Linked DNA regions of Homo sapiens: region 1 is linked to region 2. Evidence: fine-mapped expression QTL. A gene starts in region 2. The other region holds a variant in brackets. All regions are shown on one strand. Distances are between the middles of the regions. Region 1 has its middle 8.6 kb from the start of SRSF9. Region 2 holds the start of RNF10 (ring finger protein 10).

Evidence for each region.
Region 1: its variant is fine-mapped to the expression of RNF10 in lung (TOPMed, PIP above 0.99).

Annotation. Positions count from the first base shown.
Region 1 is chr12:120,475,647-120,481,022 of GRCh38, forward strand. It overlaps a transcript of DYNLL1 not described here. Among named protein-coding and RNA genes, the nearest start is that of SRSF9, 8.6 kb to the left of the region's middle. The variant T/G (reference allele first, on the strand shown) is at 2,471.
Region 2 is chr12:120,532,054-120,537,429 of GRCh38, forward strand. RNF10 (ring finger protein 10) reads left to right here and starts at 2,303. Exons shown (of 17, transcript NM_014868.5): 1 at 2,303-2,915. The coding sequence starts at 2,759. LOC128071547 reads left to right here and starts at 2,644. Exons shown (of 1, transcript NM_001414895.1): 1 at 2,644-2,904. The coding sequence starts at 2,644. The coding sequence ends at 2,904. RefSeq lists silencers at 2,201-2,354, 2,453-2,522.

The sequences.
Region 1 (5,376 bases), 56 kb before region 2:
AGAAACCAACTTCTTAAATTATATTTAACAATAATTAACTTTAATTGTAATAGCCAAATGTGGCTAGTGGCTACCATACAGGACAGCGTAGGAATTTATCATTCTCAAAGGTCTATAAGCTGTACTCCCCCATTCCCCCAAAAAAGGCCAAGAAACACTGAGACCAATCACTTCCCTTTACAGCCCTATGGTACTGGCACATAGTAAGTGCTTAGTAAACACCTGTTGATTTTATTAACTAGTATATAAAGAACAGTTATTCTAGCTCCAGAAAAGTGGAACTGAGGTACAAAATGGCAAATGAGCTCATCAGGTTCACCAAATTTCATTTCCTAAGCTCTAAATTCCTTACCCTCAACCCAGAACTTTTTCCAAAACATTTTCCACTGTAACAAACCTTGAAAACTTTCTTCACAGCAGAGTAAATCAGAAACACAAGCAAAGGGTAGGGGGGTGTGAAAAGATTAATAACAGTACTAAGAATGTTTTTCAATGCAACAAAAAAGGATGCATTTATTTAGTAGAATCCTAATTTTTTTAGACCCAAGTCAGTTTTATACTAAGCAGATTTTTAATGAACTGCGTCAATATAATTCAGTAATGGCACCTCCAAGGCAAATACATTCCTTAAAGGTAAAAAACAAGTATGGGAATTATCTGGAGTTTTTTTTTTTTAAGTTAAAAAAAAATAATAATAACTGAAAGCCAGGAAGCTTCTAGGCTACACATCCCCCATGCTAACACATGCCCAGTGGCTGAACTTCCTTCTGTCTGCCTGAGGCTGGCTCTCCCCCTCAGCCAGCACATGTGCAGGGCTTCTGTGAATGTCACATTGACAGACATTCCTTGCTAGGCAGCTGGGGACCAGTTTCTTTTGTAATTCCATCCTTCTCATGGGCTGCCAGTCTGTCTTGTTGTGACACACTCCTTGAAGGTGCTAGAAGGACAGCGGATGTTTGGGGGGTTTTTTTGTTTGTTTTTTGAGACAGAGTTTCGCTCTTGTCACCCAGGCTGGAGTGCAGTGGTGCGATCTCGGCTCACTGCAACCTCCGCCTCCCAGGTTCAAGCGATTTTCCTGCCTCAGCCTCCTGAGTAGCTGGGATTACAGGCATGCACCACCACACCTGGCTAATTCTGTATTTTTTAGTAGAGATGGGATTTCTCCATGTTGGTCAGGCTGGTCTCGAACTCCCAACCTCAGGTGGTCCGCCCGCCTTGGCCTCCCAAAGTGCTGGGATTACAGGCATGAGCCACCGCGCCCGGACTTTGTTTTTTGTTTTGTTTTTTTTGTTTTTTTTTTTGAGACGGAGTCTCGCTCTGTTGCCCAGGCTGGAGTGCAGTGGCACGATCTTGGCTCACTGCAACCTCTGCCTCCTAGGTTCAAGCGATTCTCCTGCCTCAACTTCCCAAGTAACTGGGATTACAGGCACCTGCCACCACACTTGGATAATTTTGTATTTTTAGTAGAGATTGGGTTTCACCATGTTGGCCAGGCTGGTCTCGAACTCCTGACCTCAAGTGATCCACCTGTCTTGGCTTCCCAAAATCCTGGGATTACAGGTGTGAGTTACCACGCCCAGCCAAGAGCAGGTTTTTTTTATCTAGTGCTATGCTTGGACCCCAGCTTTAAGAGCCCAGGGTTATGTACATGGCATCTGGGACTTTGGTGGTGGCTTCACTCCTTGTCTGCTCAACATTTGTTCATGTATTCAACCCACATTTATCGAGCCATAGAACATTGAGCCTGGCTCTGTGCTGGGCACTGGTGCTCGGGATACAACAGTAAGACTCAACCCTGCCCTCACACCATTCACAGACAACTAAAAAGGCAATTACAGTCAGGCGTGGTGGCTCATGCCTGTAATCCCAGCACTCTGGGAACTCGCTTGAGCCCAGGAGTTCCAGACCAGCCTAGGAAACCTAGTAGATCCCGTCTCTACAAAAAAAATAAATAAATAAAAATAAATAAATAAATAAAAAAAGCTGGGTGTGATGGTGTGCACCTGTAGTCCCAGCTACTCTGGAGGTAGAAGCGGGAGGATGGCTTGAGGCCAGGAGTTGGAGGCTGCTTTGAACTAGGGTCTCGCCACTGTACTCCAGCCTGGGTGACAGAGCAAGACCCCGTCTCTGAAAAATAAAGTAAAAATATATATATATTTTTTTTTCTGAGACAGAGTTTCGCTCTTGTTGCCCAGGCTGGAGTGCAATGGTGCGATGTCAGCTCACTGCAGCCTCCGCCTCCTGGGTTCAAGTGATTCTCCTGCCTCAGTAGCTGAGATTACAGGCATACGCCACCATGCCTGGCTAATTTTTTTTTGTATTTTTAGTAGGGACAGGGTTAAGCCATGTTGGCCAGGCTGGTTTCAAACTCTTAGCCTCAGGTGATCCACCCATGTCGGCCTCCCAAAGTGCTGGGATTACAGGCTTGAGCCACTGCACCCGGCCAAAAGTTTTTTTTTTTGTTGTTGTT[T/G]TTTTTTTTGAGAAGGAGTTTCACTCTTGTTGCCCAGGCTAGAGTGCAATGGCACAATCTTTGCTCACTGCAACCTCCACCCCCAGGTTCAAGTGATTCTCCTGCCTCGGCTTCCTGAGTAGCTGGGATTACAGGCATGCGCCACCACGCCCAGCTAATTTTGTATTTTTAGTAGAGACGAGGTTTCTCCATGTTGGTCAGGCTGGTCTTGAACTCCCTACCGCAGGTGATCCGCCCGCCTCGACCTCCCAAAGTGCTGGGATTACAGGCATGAGCCACCATGCCTGGCCCCAATTTTTTTTTTTTTTAAATAGAGACAGGGTCTCACTATATTACCTAGGCTGGTCTCAAACTCCTGAGCTCAAGTGATCCTCCTGCCTCAGCCTCCCAAAGTGCTAGTATTACAGACATTAAGCCACCATGCCTGGCCTAAAAAATAAAAAGGCAATTACAGGCTGGGCACAGTGGCTCATGCCTGTAATCCTAGCACTTAGGGAGGCTGAGGCGGGCAGATCACTTGAGGTCAGGAGTTCGAGACCAGCCTGGCCAACATGGTGAAACCACGTCTGTTTTCTTTTCTTTTTTATGAGATGGAGTCTCAATCTGTCACCCAGGCTGGAGTGCAATGGCACAATCTTGCTCACTGCAACCTCCACCTCCTGGGTTCAAGCAATTCTCCTGTCCCAGCCTCCCGAGTAGATGGGATTACAGGCGCCCGCCACCACGCCCAGCTAATTTTTGTATTTTTAGTAAAGACAGGGTTTTGCCATGTTGGCCAGGCTGGTCTTGAACTCCTGACCTCAGGTGATCCACCTGCCTCGGCCTCCCAAAGTGCTGGGATTACAGGCGTGAGCCACCGCACCAGGCTGTGAAACTGTCTCTATTAAAAATACAAAAATTAGCTGGGCATGGTGGCAGGTGCCTGTAATCCCAGCTACTCGGGAGGCTGAGGCAGGAGAATCGCTTGAACCCGGGAAGCAGAGGTTGCAGCGAGTCGAGAACACACCACTGCACAGCAACCTGGGTGACAGAGCAAGTCTCCGTGTAAAAAATAATAGTAATAGGCCAGGCGCGGTGGCTCACGCCTGTAATCCCAGCACTTTGGGAGGCTGAGGCGGGCAGATCATCTGAGGTCAGGAGTTCGAGACCAACATGGAGAAACCCCGTCTCTACTAAAAATACAAAAAATTAGACGGGCATGGTGGCACATGCCTGTAATCCCAGCTACTCAGGAGGCTGAGGCAGAGGAATCACTTGAACCCGGGAGGCGGAGGTTGTGGTCAGCTGAGATCACACCATCCAGCCTGGGCATCAAGAGTGAAACTCCGTCTCCAAAAAAAAAAAAAAAAAAAAATAATAATAATAATAATAATAATAAAATTTAAAAAGGCAATTATAACAAAATGAGATATGTGCTACAAGAAATTCAGGGCACTCCTGCAGCTCTTAACCCAGGCTGGAGGGGAGTGTTCAGGGAAGACTTCCTGGAGGGAGTGGCTCTTCTAAACTGAGACCTGAAGAACCAGATGGTGCTAGGCAGGTAAATGAGAGGAGAAGAAAAGCATTCCAGACAGAAAGAAAGCACTGCAAAGAAAGCTGGGAGGACAGAGGCAAGCTTGGGGCTTTCGGGAAGCTAAATAGTTCAGCACAGTTAGAGCATGGGGTGGAGGTGAGGGCTGTTCTTCCTTGCACTAGTGCCACAAGCTACTTACAGTGAGATGCCCTAATGTAAATCAGAGCCTGGCTGGGTTAGATTACACATGTCAGTCCTAAGTATTTCAGATGTTCACTGGCAATCAGTATGAGTTGCCTTTACCATACAAATGTTTATTGTATATCCCTGAATAGGATGATTGTAAAGGGGTGGCATGATCAGTCTGGGGGAAGGGGCCTTGAGGGGAGTATGGTCTCACAGTGTCCAAAGGAGAGCTGTGAATAGCAAAAGGATGCTTGTTTGGAAGACAGAAGGACAGCAGAAGGGGACAAAGCAAAAATCCAATCATCCCTCCTTGTGTGAGGAAGATGGGGCTCAGGGGGAGCGGAATTCAAAATGTGAGGATGTTTATTAAAACCTATGGTTCCCCCAAAATTAGAGGGGACCTCAATCTGCATCCAGAGGGGGCTGGTTAAGCAGGAAATGTACAGTTCTAGTTCTGAATACTATGCAAACATTAAAAATACCACATTCATATGTGTGGATATGAAAAGATCTCCAAGATACTGACATCTACAGTGTGTACTGTGCTAGATGCTAGGGACACAGCAGAGGGGACAAAGTGTCTGCCTCCCTAGAGACAACACCATCTCCACACCCTCACCTTGGCCTTCAGGATGTGCCTGAAGCAGCTTCTCCTCCACTCCTGCTACTCCTGGCAGCTTCTCTGGGATCTGCTGTCTGGAAGCCTGTGTCCCTTTCCTTCCTCCAGGTCTTTGCATGGGCTGGCTCCTCTCCCTGGACACTGTTTTGCTCCCTCTACCTCTGCCTCCCGAGTCTTTGCCTGGCCAAGGCCTCCTCAGCCTTCAGGTCCTTGACTTAGTAAGGGGCCCAGGCCTGTGTGACCCAATCTAGAACTTTCCTTTGAGTTTATACCTCTGAAAGGCCTTGTTGTCTCCCATTATGCCTTTTGTTCCACCTCAAAGCATTTTTCTTTTTTTTTTTTTTTGAGACGGAGTCTCGCTCTGTTGCCCAGGCTGGAGTCGTGGCTCCATCTTGGCTCACTGCAAGCTCCGCCTCCCGGGTTCACGTCATTCTCCTGCCTCAGCCTCCCGAGTAGCTGGGACTACAGGCGCCCGCCACCATGCCCAGCTAATTTTTTGCATTTTTAGTAGACATGGGGTTTCACCATGTTCGCCAGGATGGTCTCGATCTCCTGACCTCGTGATCTGCCCACCTTGGCCTCCCAAAG
Region 2 (5,376 bases):
GGATTACAGGCCTCCCAAAAAGTGCTGGGATTACATTGCACCTGACCCACATACATTATTTTCTTTCTTCTTTTTTTTTTTGAGATGGAGTCTCGCTCTGTTGCCCAGGCTGGAATACAGTGGTGCAGTCTTGGCTCACTGCAACCTGTGCCTTCTGGGTTCAAGTGATTCTCCTGCCTCAGCCTCCTCAGTAGCTGAGATTACAGGTGCGCACCACCACGCCTGGCTAATTTTTTTGTATTTTTAGTAGAGACGGGGTTTCACTATGTTGGTCAGGCTGGTCTCGATCTCCTGACCTGTTGATCCACCCGGCTTGGCCTCCCAAAGTGCTGGGGTTACAGGTGTGAGCCACCGTGCCCGGCCCCATATGCATGATTTTCTAAATCTCAGTCTGTATCTGTAAAATGAGGAACTGCTTGTCTCATAGGTAAGAACATCACTTGTTAGCTATGTGATAATAGGCAAATTATCTGGACTTTTGGAGTCCATTTACTCATCTTTAAATTTTATTTATTTAGGGACAGAGTCTTGTTGTGTTACCCAGGCTGGATTCATACTCTTGGGCTCAAGTGATCATCCCTCCTCAGCCTCCTGAGTAGCTGGGACTACAGGCACACTTAGTCTAAAATTTAGTTATTGAGAAGATTAAATGTGATAATGTTAACAGCTGTTAAATACAATTTATAGGAGCCCATTGTTTTGCACTGAGCTTCAGCACAGTAGACCAAACCAAAACAGAGTTACTCAAGGTGAATTTCTACCCAACCACGCCTAAACGAAATTGTTTATCTGACCTTCTGAGAAATCATCAAATCCCCAAACTGGTCAGTTTTACCCCACATAAGGAAGTCCATTCTGCTTAAACCTTTACAAGAAAAGTAATTTTGAAATGACTAATCTGCTTTTTGTTCTCTGTTTCTACTTTTTAAAAAAAAGTTTAGACAGGGTCTCCCTCTCTGTCACTCATACTGGAGTGCACTGGCACGATCGTATCTCACTGCAACCTCCAACTGCTGGGCTCAGGTGATCCTCCCACCTCAGTTTCCTGAGTAGCTAGAACTACAGGTGTGCAGCCACAGCCACTATGCTTGGCTAATTTTTTTTTCTTTCTCTCTTTTAAATTAAAGTTAGTTTTATTCAAACTATTTTATTCAGAGCCCAGCTAATTTTTGTATTTTTAATAGGGTCGGGATTTTGCTATGTTGGCCAGGCTGGTCTTGAACTCCTGGCCTCAAGTGATCTGCCCCCTCCTCAGACTCCCAAAGGGCTGGAATTACAGGTGTGAGCCACCACGCCCGGCTGCCCAACTAATTTTTTAAAAAATATTTTTATTCTTTAGAGACAGGGGTCTCGCTATATTCCCCAGGCTGGTCTGGAACTCCTGGCCTCCAAGGATCCTTCCACCTCTGCCTCCCAAAGTGTTGGGATTACACGCATGAAACACTGCTTATGGCCTGTTTCCGCCTCTGTCTCCTGGGTAATGGGGACCACAGGTGCGCACCGCCACGCCAGGCTAAAGAAATAAAGTGATGTACTGTATGAAGAAGTGCCGTAAAGTGATATTAAATGTAAGGTATTGTCATTATTAACGTTATTATTATTATTCCTAATATGAGATAGACTAAAGGCCATAAATCAATTGGTATTAACGCTAGAATAAGAACCATAAATTGGCCGGGCGCGGTGGCTCACGTCTGTAATCCCAGCACTTTGGGAGGCCGAGGTGGGCAGATCACGAGGTCAGGAGATCAAGACCATCCTGGCTAACACGGTGAAACCGTGTCTCTACTAAAAATACAGAAAATTAGCCGGGCGTGGTGGCGGGCGCCTGTGGTCCCAGCTACTCGGGAGGCTGAGGCAGGAGAATGGCGTGAACCCGGGAGGCGGAGCTTGCAGTCAGCCCAGATCGCGCCACTGCACTCTAGCCTGGGCGACAGAGCGACTCCGCCTCAAAAAAAAAAAAAAAGAACCATAAATCAAACGAGTCTATAAAGGAGTTCCACAGGTATTCCAATGTTTGGCTACATTATTATCAGTGTATATTATTATTGTTACTGTATTTTTAGTGTACTAAGTGAAAAACCTGGACTTGGAGCAACTGCAAGTCCCATTATTTTGAATGCCCTCACAGTGGGGTTGGGGCGGAGGTGGGGGAGGAAATAAAAAAAACAAAACCAAAACAAACAAACAAACAAAAACCAAAAAACAAACCACGAGACCCGGATGTAGGCAAAAACTACATTTCCCAGAATACCTCACCCCCTCTCCACTATATATACAGTCCATCCGGGTTCTTTGAGATGCTGTTTGGCGACTCGTCGCCATTCCCGGAGCAGGTCGGCCTCGGCCCAGGGGCGAGTATCCGTTGCTGTGTCGGAGACACTAGTCCCCGACACCGAGACAGCCAGCCCTCTCCCCTGCCTCGCGGCGGGAGAGCGTGTCCGGCCGGCCGGCCGGCGGGGCTCGCGCAACCTCCCTCGCCTCCCCTTCCCCCGCAGCCTCCGCCCCGCCAGGCCCGGCCCGGACTCCCGAGCCCCGGCCTCCTCGTCCTCGGTCGCCGCTGCCGCCGGGCTTAACAGCCCCGTCCGCCGCTTCTCTTCCTAGTTTGAGAAGCCAAGGAAGGAAACAGGGAAAAATGTCGCCATGAAGGCCGAGAACCGCTGCCGCCGCCGACCCCCGCCGGCCCTGAACGCCATGAGCCTGGGTCCCCGCCGCGCCCGCTCCGCTCCGACTGCCGTCGCCGCCGAGGCCCCCGTTGATGCCGCTGAGCTCCCCCAACGCCGCCGCCACCGCCTCCGACATGGACAAGAACAGCGGCTCCAACAGCTCCTCCGCCTCTTCGGGCAGCAGCAAAGGGCAACAGCCGCCCCGCTCCGCCTCGGCGGGGCCAGCCGGCGAGTCTAAACCCAAGAGCGGTAAGGACGGGCCTGCGGCAGTGGGCGGGGGCGACTGCCCCTGCTGCTGGGGAGAGTCGTTGCTCTCATCGGCTGGGTTACTCGGGGACAGGCTCCACTTTCTTTTATAGCTCCTACCTGCCCTTTTCCATGGCTCTCATTTGCAGTTACATTAATGAGCGCTGTGCTGCGTGGTTTACGTGGATCATTTACATTAATACTCAAAACTGCTCGATTAAGCAGGTGCTGTTCTTATCGCCATTTTGCATATGATGAGAAAGGGTAAGGTCACCCAGCTAGTATTTGGCTCACAGCAGGCCTTAAGACTTGGTTTGTGTGACTCATCAGTCCACGCTCCTAAAACCACTAAGTTGTTCTACCCTTTAATGTTGAATTAACATTGGATAGTGTTCAAGTTTAGATGGGTGGGTGAGGGCCCAAGGACCTTTCAAACTCAGATCTCTTATTTAATAACCTGGTCCCAGATCCATTCCTCTGTCGAAGAGGAAGTCATCCTTCAGTGGCTATTCATTGTGGGGTTAAGAGCGCAGACTATGAATTCAGTCTTTTTGGGTCCCAGTTTGCCAGACCTTGAGTGAGTGCCCCGAGTTTACTTACTTGTAAAGGTAGGTGGAGGTAATATAATTAAATAAACTTAAAAAACTAATTAAAAACAAAACAAATGAACTAAGGTCTTAGGATATCTGGCGTCTATTTTGCGCCAAATACACATAATGTCTATTGTTGTGTGTTGGACTATAGGATTGTCCTTTAACAGGGAAGGTTTTATTTCTGTAATCAAGTCTGTCAATATTATGACCATGTTGATAATAGCTACCTTTAATTGAGGGCTTACCATGTGCCAAGTACTAGGTGAAGTTTTTACCTCTGTTTTCACTGTGCCAGTCACTGACTTGTCTACCAGGGTGAAATTGTTCATATTTAAAGAAGGAATAAACTGAGCAGGTAGGATGTTAGGAGTTGGCAGAGGCTAGAGTCCCGGTGTTCTTCATTTTATTTCGAAGTTTGTACTAATCTCTGCTCTCTTTTGTATTTCAGTCACATTAGCAGTAATAGGAAGGTGTTTTCAGCGACAGTGGGGATGTTGTGGCAGAGAGGGAAATATTTGAAGTCCCTAAATGTGGAGGTCCAGTTTAAAACTTGTCAAGATTAAAAAAACTGTTTAGAGTGAGACCGGGCGCGGTGGCTCATGCCTGTAATCCGAACACTTTGGGAGGCTGAGGTGGGAGGATAGCTTGAGCCCAGGAGTTTCACACCAGCTTGGGCAAGATAGTAAGACCCTCGTCTCCATAAGAAAAAAAAAAAATTAGCCGAGTGTGGTGGCACACACCTGTAACCCTACCTACTTGGAAGGGTAAGGTGGGAGGATCGCTTAAGCTCAAGGAAGTTGAGGCTGCGGTGAGCTATATCACGATACTGCATACCATCCAGCCTGGGTAACAGAGACCCCCATCTCTAAACAGTAAAAAGAAAACTAAGGCTGACTTAAAACAAACAAAAAAAACAGAAAATTGTAAGGTCTGCTAACTCGCTCAGAGTTCACCTGCTGGATATGGCAAACTTGTTTACCTGGTGTGAGACCATTGGAGTATGGGTTCTCGGGCCGTGTCAGGAAATGGCATGTATGCAGACTGATTTTGCAGTTCTGCACATGCGTAGCTTTGCCATAGATCCCTCAAAAGATAGAAGGTAACCAGTCCTTTTGGTCAGTGTTGGAACTGGTTTAGAGTGGTCTGTTCAAAGCAATTGATAAGTAAGTTTATTTTTGTACTCTATTCCCAGATGTATGTTAAGGATTTGGTTCTCCAACTGTGAATTCTCAACTAATTTTTCTGGGGCTCCTCTTTAAGCCACTAACATACATTCATTAGTCAGTTGCAATAAATGCCTTAAGTTTATTTCTTAGCAGTAGGTGAAAGCTTGTGACAACTTAAAATAAAACAAACAAACAGGTATTTAAGGAATTTTACTGCTATGTCCTTCACTTTGAATATGTTGGTTAGTGGAATTAACTCTGATTACCCAACAAGATGATACAGAATTCTATAGTAGTTTGACCAAAGCAAGTATTTGTCATTGTTAACATTTCAAATGGGCTGGGTGGCTATAATCCCAGCACTTTGGGAGGCTGAGGCAGGCCGATTACTTGAGCCCAGGAGTTCGAGACCCTGTCCTACAAAAAAATAAATGAGCCGGGCGTGGTGGCACGCACCTGTAGTCCCAGCTGTGAAGAGGCTGAGGCAGGGGAGGAGGAAGAGCACTTAAACCCAGAAGTTCGAGGTTGCAGTGAGCCACGATCACTCCACTGCACTCTAGCCTGGGTGGCAGAGTGAGACCCCGTCTCAAAACAAGAAAACTTCTGTAAAAACTCATGTAGGCCGGGTGCGGTGGCTCACGCCTGTAATCCCAGCACTTTGGGAGGCCGAGGCAGGTGGATCATCTGAGTTCAGGAGTTTGAGAC